Regions from separate parts of the Homo sapiens genome. Here region 1 is linked to region 2. The links come from fine-mapping of genetic effects on gene expression. Tissue or cell type: lung. Region 2 holds a variant in brackets; the other region holds the start of a gene. All regions are shown on one strand. Distances are from middle to middle. Region 1 holds the start of PHF11 (PHD finger protein 11). Region 2 overlaps SETDB2-PHF11 (SETDB2-PHF11 readthrough).

The links. PIP is the estimated chance that this variant, and not a neighbour inherited with it, causes the effect.
Region 1: PHF11 starts here. The variant in region 2 is fine-mapped to the expression of PHF11 in lung (GTEx, PIP 0.99).

The regions. Positions count from the first base shown.
Region 1 is chr13:49,493,895-49,499,272 of GRCh38, reverse strand. It overlaps PHF11 (PHD finger protein 11), which reads right to left and starts at 3,320. Exons shown (of 10, transcript NM_001040443.3): 1 at 3,178-3,320. The coding sequence starts at 3,271. The region is part of intron 12 of SETDB2-PHF11 (SETDB2-PHF11 readthrough); the gene reads right to left. SETDB2 (SET domain bifurcated histone lysine methyltransferase 2) reads right to left here. Exons shown (of 14, transcript NM_001160308.3): 14 at 4,270-5,378. RefSeq lists enhancers at 2,739-2,788, 3,279-3,518, 3,829-4,514 and a silencer at 2,979-3,258.
Region 2 is chr13:49,512,805-49,518,182 of GRCh38, reverse strand. It overlaps SETDB2-PHF11 (SETDB2-PHF11 readthrough), which reads right to left. Exons shown (of 21, transcript NR_135324.2): 13 at 5,017-5,124; 14 at 32-165. It overlaps PHF11 (PHD finger protein 11), which reads right to left. Exons shown (of 10, transcript NM_001040443.3): 3 at 5,017-5,124; 4 at 32-165. Among named protein-coding and RNA genes, the nearest start is that of PHF11, 20 kb to the right of the region's middle. The variant T/G (reference allele first, on the strand shown) is at 2,007.

The sequences.
Region 1 (5,378 bases), 19 kb after region 2:
TGCTCATCTCTCAGATATACAGAATTCAGGATAGAAGATTTCAGTTCAGATTGGGCTGGTTTCTTAAAGAAGATGTAAAAACTGAGAGGCTGCAAGGGCAGCCATCTTCTATACCATCACCAGGAAAACTGGACCAGAGAAAGAGAAGAACAAAGCAGATACACTGAGAGATGCAGAAATAAGAGATAAAGGAGAGTGTTGTCAAAGTTTATAATGGCTTCTCAGGTCCTAGTCCTCAGCCCTTTCTGTAAGATGCTAAAGTATCCATGCTCTGGGGGTCTGTGAGTCTGGTTTTCCTGCTTACTACTACTAAGCATCCCTCATGCTTAAATTACATCAAATTGTTTTTGTAGTACTTGCAGCCAGTACGTGCTTATTAACACTGGAAGGACCATGACTTACTTGATCTGTGTGTGTGCACTCACATGTTTATATGTGTGTGTGCCCATGTGTGTTTAAGAGAAAGACAGTGCTGGCAGCGGTGTGGAAGGTGGACTGCCTTACCCTCAGGGTCTTTCACCTAGTCTATTCCAGTGATCTCTTGTCCTTGTCTCTATTTTCCCTGTCATGATCCCACTGCATTCTTTATATTACTGTCAGAATGATCTATCTGAAATGTATTACGTTACTGTCAGAATGATCTACCTGAAATGCACTATGCTACTGTCAGAATGATCTACCTGAAATGTACTAGGTTACTGTCAGAATGATCTACCTGAAATGTACCAGGTCACTGTCAGAATGATCTAACGGAAATGTACTAGGTTACAGTCAGAATGATCTATCTGAAATGTACTAGGTTACTGTCAGAATGATCTACTGGAAATGTACTAGGTTACTGTCAGAATGATCTACCGGAAATGTACTAGGTTACTGTCAGAATGATTTACCAGAAATGTGCTAGGTTACTGTCAGAATGATCTACCGGAAATGTACTATGTTACTGTCAGAATGATCTACCTGAAATGGACATCTGCTCATATTTCCCCATCACCTACAGAAGTCAAGCTCCGTAGTGTTATATACAAGTACATTCATTCCTTCAACAAATATTTAATGAGGACTTACTATTATTTAATATTTAATGAGTACCTACTATGTCCTACTACTACTACTAGGCCAACCAGTCTAGGCACTAAGGATAGAAGAGAGTAAGACGAATTTACATGCCAGTGGCCAGTGGTAGAGACAGGCATTAAACAAGTTTTGTTTTGTTTTCCAGGTAGTGATAAGTACTATAGAGAAAGAATAGAGCAGAAGGAGGTAGAGAGTGACAGGAGCAGGGGCAAGGGGTGCTCTTTTAGACAGGATGGGCAGGCAAGGTTGAGGGAAGATGTATATGAGCAGACACCTGAATATGATGGGGAACTGAAAATGGGATAATGTGGCAATGAGTTTTCCTTGCAGAGAATAGCAAATGGAAAGATCCTGAGGCAGGGACAGCTTTGGTGGCTTAGAGGACCTACAAGGTAGCAGGGTAGCAGAGTCATTAAGATGGGCAGGAGTCAAATCAGATAAGGACATGGGGTAAACTGCAGGCCAGGCTCATAGATTGTTCTGAGAGTCATGGGAGACTATTGGTGGGTTTTGAGTAGGAGAATCACATTTGCTTTTTGTTTTTCAAAAAGCATTTTGGCCGCTCTGCAGGCCTGCCTGTATTAAAGGCTAGAATAGAAGCCAGGAAAGCAATAGTCCAGACAGAAGATCATGATGGCGTAGGCTTGGGTGGCAGTAATGGAAGTGGTGAGAAGCAGTCAGGCTCCAGATACAGTCAGGCTGAACACAGAACTGGCTGGCCCGACTGATGCATTAGAAGGGGTGTCCGGAGGAAAGAGAGGCCCTGAGGAGCCACTAAGGTTTTTGCAAGGAGCACCTGGGCGAATGGAATGGGCTGGTGGTTGAGCAGGTTTGGAGTACCTGAATACAGTGGAGGAAACAAGAATTCTCTTTGGGACATACTCAGTTTGAGATCATTTCAGAAATGGAAGAAGTTGGTTATACCAGTCTGGAGTTTGAGGAAGAGGTCAGGATGGAAGCGCATCTCCCGTGACTTACCTTACAGTCCATATGTATACCAATGAATGAAATATCCAACTGATTGGCTTGTGGTTGCCACGTATGATGTTTACGTGTGACGTTTTGTGGTTTGGTGCCTTTGTGTCATCCTCTCTGCTGGGAACACCCCTTCAACTTTTCCACCTTTGGCTGAGTCTTGCCCTTTAAAGGTAAGCCCATGAAACATGGAGAAACCCTCTCTACTAAAAATACAAAATTAGCTGGGCGTGGTGGCACATGCCTGTAATCCCATCCACTCGGGAGGCTGAGGCAGGAGAATCGCTTGAACCCGGGAGGCAGAGGTTGCAGTGGGCCGAGATAGCGCCTTTGCACTCCAGCCTGGGCAACAAGAGTGAAACTCCTCTCAAAAAAAAAAAAAAAAAAAAAGGGTAAGCCCAGCCATCCTCTCCTCAAAAAGCTTTCCCTGAAGACTGGGAGTCAGGAGTCTCTCATCTGTACCTCTGTGGTTCTGACCTCCTCATTAAAGTTGCCTAGTAGAGTCTCTAGGGCAGGGTCTGCCTAACTCATCTTTGTATGCTCAGGACCTTGCCCTGAGCCTGGCACACCGTTTGGAGCTATACACACACGCAAGGGCAGGAACCCATCAGAAGACCCACCCACTCAAGTAGAGGGCCGGGGAGGACTGGAACGACTGGAGAAGGGGAGACGGGTTCCAGTCACGTCCTCCGTGAACGTGAGACCCAGCTCTTCCCTCAGGGCCGCCCCCTGCCTCACCGCATCAGGGCGCCCCTCCACTGTCCTGGTTTACCGGTGAGCGGAGGGGCGCTAGGAGAGTTGACATCGGTTGTGGTGGAAGCACTGGGCTGTCACCCGCGGGGGAGGTAAACCGAAGCGTGCCCACCACTCGCGCGAAACCATGGGCAGTCAGAGCCACCTGTGGAACTGGCCTGGGCCGCGCCCTGTCCTCTGGCCCCCTCCCCCACCAACAGGCACGCGAGTGGTGAGCCAAGTTCGTCCAGCGCCGCCCCGGCGTCTAGGGCCCCGGCCCGGAGTAGGGGCAGGTCGGGCCCCCATGCGGCCACGACCGGAAGGCAGGCCCCTTGACCGGGCCCGTCGCTGCCCAGCCCCGCCCGCCCGCCCGCCCGCCCCCGCGGTACACACCGGTGGGAAGGAGGAGCGCCTCCTGCGCGGGCCGGGCCTCCGGGCTGCTGGCGCCGAGCACCCTCTCGGGCCGGGGCGGCGACGCCTGGGCCATGACTGTGCTGCAGCTGCGGGTGGCGGCCGGATAGCGAGATCCCGGAAGTGCCCCAGCTGCACTAGGTTTCGTTTTCTTAAATCTGGGCTGTCGCTTTGAGTCACTAGCCGGCCCGGGGAAAGTTGGGTGTGCAGAGAGGGGTTGTCACACACACTGCTCCAGATTCCAGTCTAGTCTTAATTTGAATAGCTTAAAAAACCCAAACGCCGGGAGCAGTGGCTCACGCCTGTAATCCCAGCACTTTGGGAGGCCGAGGAGGGCGGATCACGAGGTCAGGAGTTCAACACCAGCCTAACCAACATGGTGAAACCCCGTCTCTACTAAAAATACAAAAATTAGCTGGGCATGGTGGCGGGTGCCTGTAATCCCAGCTACTCCAGACACTGAGGCATGAGAATCGCTTGAATCGGGAGGCGGGGCTTGCAGTGAGCCGAGATCGCGCCACTACACTCCAGCCTGGGCTACAGAGCGGGACTCCGTCTCAAAACAAACAAACAAACAAACACACACAAAAAACAAACAAACAAAAAAACCCCAAACGCCAGGCTTCCCTACTCCACCCCCCACAACACAGCGGGAGAAACAATCACTCTCCTGAGGGTTCCTCCTAAAAACTATCATACTGGCCGGGTGGGCGCGGTGGCTCACGCCTGTAGTTCCAGGACTTTGGGAGGCCGAGGTGGGCGAATCACGAGGTCAGGAGTTCGAGACCAGCCTGGTCAACATGGTGAAACCCCGTCTCTACTAAAAATACAAAAATTAGCCGGGCTTGGTGGCGGGCGCCTGTAATCCCAGCTACTCGGGAGTCTGAGGCAGGAGAATCGCTTGAACCCGGGAGGCGGGGGTTGCAGTGAGCCAAGATCGCGCCACTGCACTCCTGCCTAGGCGACAGAGCCAGACTCCCTCTCAAAAAAAAAAAAAAAAAAAAAAAAATTATCATACCGAGTTTGGCTTAAATAAGCATATCTTAAAAGGACGCAGAATTAGCCGATCCTAAATCCAGTTGCCAGTAGCAAGCCTTTATTTAGCACCCATAGGGTACAGAGCACCATACAAGATGAGGTTTTCAGTGAATCTAACATAAATGCATATAATTATAGTTAAAAAATAAGTTGTTCTGGAAAAAAGACATATAATAGTTGGTGGTTTGCTGAGGAATTAAAGGAAAACTGGAGGTCTTCCACTTTCAGCAGGTTGTAAAGAGGAAGACTGCCAACTAGGGATAGCAGAAGAGAGAACATTAAAAAGGACAATTTGTATAGTCTTGACAACTATGAAATGAATTGCAGAAGAGTGTGGGGTCTGCAAAACAGGGAAGTGAGCAGACAGACCCTAGCAGCCAATTTTTAAATTTTTTTTTGCCCTCCATGCAGGAGGATGAAAGAGTATTTCTTGCCAGGCCAAAATGAAAGGCCCTTTATAAAGAGACTGACATTAGGGTGTTCCCCAGCAAGATAGCTCAGGTAGGTCATAGTAAAACAAAGAGCCCTTTACCACACTCTCAGCTTATAGTAAGCTTTTTGGTGTTCCACACTTAAATATGAGTAGACTACCAAGACCATTAACTCTGAGGAAAGCCTATAATGTGAACGACCAAAACAAACATACAGGGGAAACAAAGAAACAAACCCTGGAGGACACAGATTATGCCGAAAGAATACAGAGATGCATGCCTGTATGTGTATGTATACGTGTGTGCATATACATACATAAACACACAAACATCTTCAAGGAGATAAAATACTGCAACCATGAGCCAAAATAGGATGCTATTAAAAAAAAAGAATATTCGGAGAAGGGGAGCTCTTAGAAATTAAAAATATGAGACAATATGAGACTAGAAAAATAAAATGCAACAGATGAACTGGAAGATTAAATTGAGAAATGCTCCTAGGAAAAGGTCCTAGCAAGAAGACAGAGCTGAAAGTTAAGAGAAAAGATAGGAAAATTAGAGATCAAATTCTGGAGGTCTAACATCTGGAAAACAGGAATTCCAGAAACAGTGAAGAGATGGGAAATCATTAGTTTCAGACGGAATGATCCCACCAGGCACCTAGTACAAAGGATGAAAATGGACTCTTAACAGGGACAGAACATTGAGACAAAG
Region 2 (5,378 bases):
AATGTGGTTTTAAAAATGTTTTATTAAATACTTATAAATTCCTCGAACTCCATCAGACTGTGGAACTGCGTCGTCCTTCTTGGCACAGAAAAAGTGGTAATTCTTGTTACAGTTTTTTAAATCACATCCCACGGTGGCTCCTCTTTTATGACAAAATTTGCATTTCTACAGAAGAATAGATTTTACTGAGTAAGTACCTGTTTGTTGTTATTTGTTAAAATTCAAAGATATCATTAAATGTTATTTAAGTTCCAGAAGCCCTGCATTTTATCCTGGGCATCATCAGCAAGATTCCATCCCGTTACAAACATTAGGGTACAGTACTTATATTTGGCTGCTCATTTGGGAATTTCAGCGAAACCTCAGCTAACCGGAATGCTTGGACAGACAGTTTTGTAATGATCTGATTAAAAGCAGAAAAATGCTTTTTGTTTCAAAAAAACAGTCTCTGTCTTTTAAAAAGAATTTTCTAAAAAGCAGAGTGGGCAAACTTGTCCAGCTCCAGGCAAGGGGCCCCACTAGGGGGCCCTTTGAGACAGGCGAGATTGGTCGCTGGCTGTGCCACGGAGAGTGGTGTGATTTCTCTTTCGGACTCAGAACCTGCTGTGGGTGATAATATCTGTCTTACAGAGTTGCCATTGAGGATAATGTGAGATAAAGTAAGGGAATCTAGGTAGTAGGGCCAAAAATTTTTAAAAATTCTACAACTCTATTAACAGTTTTTTCTTGGTTCAATTTATTTGATCCCTGGCTTGTATTTATCTATCTGGTATTTTATATGTGACAGTGGTGTCATGATGGCTAGGCAGTGTGTGGCCACAGCAGCCTAACTGGTTTAGGGGAATCCAGCCAGGACCAAGGCTGATCAGCATGATACTCTGGCTGAATGACGTGGGGGCACAGTGAAATTGCCTTGCAGAACAGGAGGTCACTCACACCATAGCCCAGGGTCGGCACAAGCAAGCATAGAAACAGTTAAAGGAAATTCAAATATAGGCAAGAAATAAGGTTATGATAACGGTGGAAATTCAAATCAGAGCATACAAGAACGATCATTTAATTTGGGAGGAGGGTAACTGGCTATGTATATAGGAAAAAAATAAAGTTAGATCCCTACCTCACAATATACTCCTGAATAAGTTGTACATGGATTAAAGCTCGAACCAGATAACAATGTTAAACAAAAAACTCTTAAAGATTAGGAAATATAGGAGAAAGAAAAAAAGCGTAGTATGGAGGCAAGGAAGGCTGTCTAAGGCAGGAAGAAAACCCAGAAGCCACAAATGAAAACTCTGACAGGCTGGGCATGGTGGCCCATGCCTGTAATCCTAGTACTTTGGGAGGCTGAGGCAGGAGGATTGCTTGAGCCCAGGAGTTCGAGACCAGCTTGAGCAACACAGTGAGACCTCATCTCTACAAAAAACTTTAAAAATCAGCGGGGCATAGTGGCACACTCCTGTAGTCCCAGCTATTTGGGAGGCTGAAGCCAGAAGATGGCTTGGGGCCAGGAAATCAAGGCTGCGGTGAGCTGTGATTGCACTCCAGCCTGGGCGACAGACGGAGAATCTGTTTCAAAAACAAAAACTGACAGAACCTACTATACAAAAATTTTAAACTTCCATTTTATAGTGAGGGCATTCAAAATATTTAAAAGACAAGGAAAAGATTGAAAGAAGAATGTTTGTAGCATACTAGATAAAGTTTTAAGATTCTGATAACCTGCAGAAAAATGGTAACTGGCAAATTACAGAAGAAAAAATACAAATGGCTAATAAACATTTATTCATTTAAAAATACATGAGTATATAGTATTTATTTAGCATGCAGTAGCTATGATGTGGCAGGCATGGTTTTAGGATAAGGGAAAACAGTAGTGGACAAAGCAGAAAAGATGCCTGTCCACGTGAAGCTTACATTCTATTGGAGACAAGGTACAATGATCAAATAAAGCAAAGTTTAAAACGTCTCACAAAGTTATATACACATTATATCGAATTAAAATAGGG[T/G]GAAGTGACAGTGTCACTGGGTCCCTACTTCAGACTGGGCAGTTAGTAAAATGGGTCACCTCTAAGGAGGTGATATGGAAGCTGAGATCTGAATAATAGTAAGAGCTCCCAGATGCAAAAAGGAGGAGGAAAGACATTCTAAGCAGAGGGCCTTGGGTCTTGGCCGCAAGAATGAGCTTCCCCATTGGCAAGCTACAGCGAGGACAAGACAGATGGCCAGTGCTGTTGGAGCAGCGAAGTGGGCACAGGGAAGTCTCAGGATGATCAAAGGGGTAAGTAAGGGCTGGGTCACGTAGGACTTACATGCCAGAGTAAGGAGTTGGGTTTTATCTTTCTGCACGGGGAACATAAACTGATTAACATTATTGAAAGATCACTCAGGCTGCTGGGCTGCTGCTGGGTGGAGAACTACGGGCTGGGGTAGGGATGGCAGGAGAGACAGTCGGGCGAGTGTCAGTACTCGCTTTAGAGAACAAGATGGGTGACTCCGCTATGGTGGATTACTGACGCTGAGAGAAGTGGGTGGATGAATGCAAGATGCACCTAGGAGTTCGTGCCCATGGGCTTGGTGTTGGGCTGGGAGGTTGACGAGGAAAAGAGAGTCCTTAGACTTCTGGCTTGGGCAAATGGATAATGATAGTGCTGTTTTTATGAGCAGATTTAGATGGAGAATGTGTGTGTGTGTGTGTGTGTGTGTGTGTGTGTGTGTGTGTGTGTGTGTATAGGAGATGGAACTGTACTTTTTTGGCCACTTTACTCTGAAATGCTATTGGATGTCCATGTGGCTCTGTCAGATTGGTAGTCTGAATCCTAGGGAGGAGCCTGCTTGCTGAGGGCCCCTGCTGCTCACCCTCAAGGTACTTGCCCAGCTTACTGAAAATACCACAGCACTGGCCTGTCCCCACCCTGGGTGTGTGCCATGTATCTGCCCACATAGTCCAAGAGTTCCATAAATGCTGTGAGAGGGTAACTATTACCTCAGGTGACTTTCCTCTCTTCTCTCCTTTATCCTCCACTTCCAACCCATCCCAAAGCCTTCCCAGTAGGGAAGTCTGCATCCCAAGGTCCGCAGAAACCCTCAGGTACCTGCTTTCCCCCAAATATTATGCCTCCAATCAACTGCCCTCATTTCTCAGCCTGGGTCTCTTCATAACTGGATGGCTACTAGAATTTCACAGAGATTTCTTTAACTCTGTGTCTCCCCACTCAAATCCAATTAGTGAAGAGCAAAAAAATATTCCAGTTGAGGTCTGTCTGCTACTTTCTAATCAGTTCACCCATCTCATCACACCCAAAATCCTAGGGATGTGGCATTGTCAGCACTAATGATGTCAGCAGCCAGTCTTGCCAAGTATTAATTAGTAATAGCATAGACATTGAGAGCAGGATCCACACACTCTTTTTTTTTTTTTTTAATTTGAGACAGAGTCTCACTCTGTTGCCCAGGCTGGAGTACAGTGGTGTGATCACAGCTCACTGCAGCCTCGACTTTCCAGGCTCACCCAATCCTCCTACCTCAGCCTCCCAAGTAGCTGGGACTACAGGTATATGCCACTGTGTCGGGCTAATTTTTTTTTCTTTTTTGGTAAAGACAGGGTCCCACTATATTGCCCAGGTTGGTCTCAAATTCCTGGGCTCAAGCAGTCCTCAACTGCCTTGGCTTCCCAAAGTGCTGGGATTAGAGGCATGCAGCACCATGCCCGGGCCACACACAGTCCATTTTTATGGCTTGCTTCAGGACCTACTACAGTATTGTGTACACTGCCTAAGATAGCATAATTTGCAGAATTCCATCTGGACTGTTGCCTTTCACCCTGCACTTTCCATTTCTTCGATTAAAATGGGCATCATTTTACCTATAGCTGGGAGTTTACCTAGAGCAATGTATGTAACACACCTACCACAGGATGCTGCTGATGCTGATGCCTTGCAAAGACTAACTATACATTTGTCCCTGGTTATTAACCCTGTGGTTGTAGTCAGAATGTGAGGTGCTCACACTTGCTGTCCTGCTTGCTAAGATGTGAAGGGTCCTTGAGAGGATGTCGCTGCAATAAGCCCAGTGGAATGACTTCTCAGCATTTCTTCCTCCTTGAATAGCCCCCTTATGACCCATGAGGAGCTGACCCCTGATTAGTTATGGCCACCCCCAGCAGTTGGTGCAGAAAGAGGGGTGCAACCTAATGAAACTTTCAGAAGGGGGCTTATTCCATGTGTATGGATGACCTTTGTCTTTCACTGGGTATGAACAAGAAAGCCTGATGCTTCAGTTGCTGCCTGCGGCCACCCTATGACCACAATGGGACCAGCTGATGTTGGGGACAGGAGGCCAGAGAGGAAGAACCTGGGCCCCTGATGACATTATCAAGCCACTCAATCAACCAACTTGGAAAGCAGGTGTTTTCTCTGATCAAGTGAAAAAGTAAGTATCCTCTTTGTAAAAGTCTGTTTGACTTGAGCTTTCTTCTACTTACAGCAAAAGCATTCTAACTCAGATCACTTTACTGGTGAAGTATATGGTAGTTTATTTTAAAATATTAAATGTTGGCCGGGCGTGGTGGCTCACACCTGTAATCCCAGCACTTTGGGAAGCCAAGGCAGGCAGATCACCTGAGGTCAGGAGTTCGCGACCAGCCTGGCCAACATGGTGAAACCCTGTCTCTACTAAAAATACAAAAATTTGCCGAGCATGGTGGCCCGTGCCTGTAATCCTAGCTACTCGGGAGGCTGAGGCAGGAGAATCGCTTGAACCCAGGAGGCGGAGGTTGCAGTGAGCTGAGACCGTGTCACTGCACTCTAGCCTGGGCAACAAGAGCAAAACTCCGTCTCAAAAAAAAAAAAAAAAAAATTAAATGTTAAGTTGAATTGAGGTTTCCAATACAGTTCCTACTTCTTCCAGCTCTCCAAGATGCTTCTCTATCCCTGGTGTATCAGTCAAATAGACTCCTTTGGAATGCATTCCTTGAGGGTCTGTTCATCCAGTATAAGAAATAACATCATTTACACTTACCAACTTCCTTCCTCTCTGGATTTCTTTCTTTACTGATTCCACATCAAAACTTCTATCAGGATTAAGTGGATCCTGATCCTCACATTCCACAAGTCCTGAAGAATACAGCTGCAGATTGGAAAAAAAAATCCAGAGTATGCACAAAGTAATATTGAAAGCTACATGTCAGAAAATCATACCAAAAGTGGAAAATCAAACCAGGAGTGGGAAATGGACTGGGGGTAAAACAGTGGCAACTTTGGGGGTGGATGAGCAGACCATAAGCCATCCCATTTCTCTGGGAATGACCCTGGTTTCCGGGCATGTTTTATACTTTGTAATCCTGACCTCTAATAACTCATTGACCTGGGTGGAACCCTGAT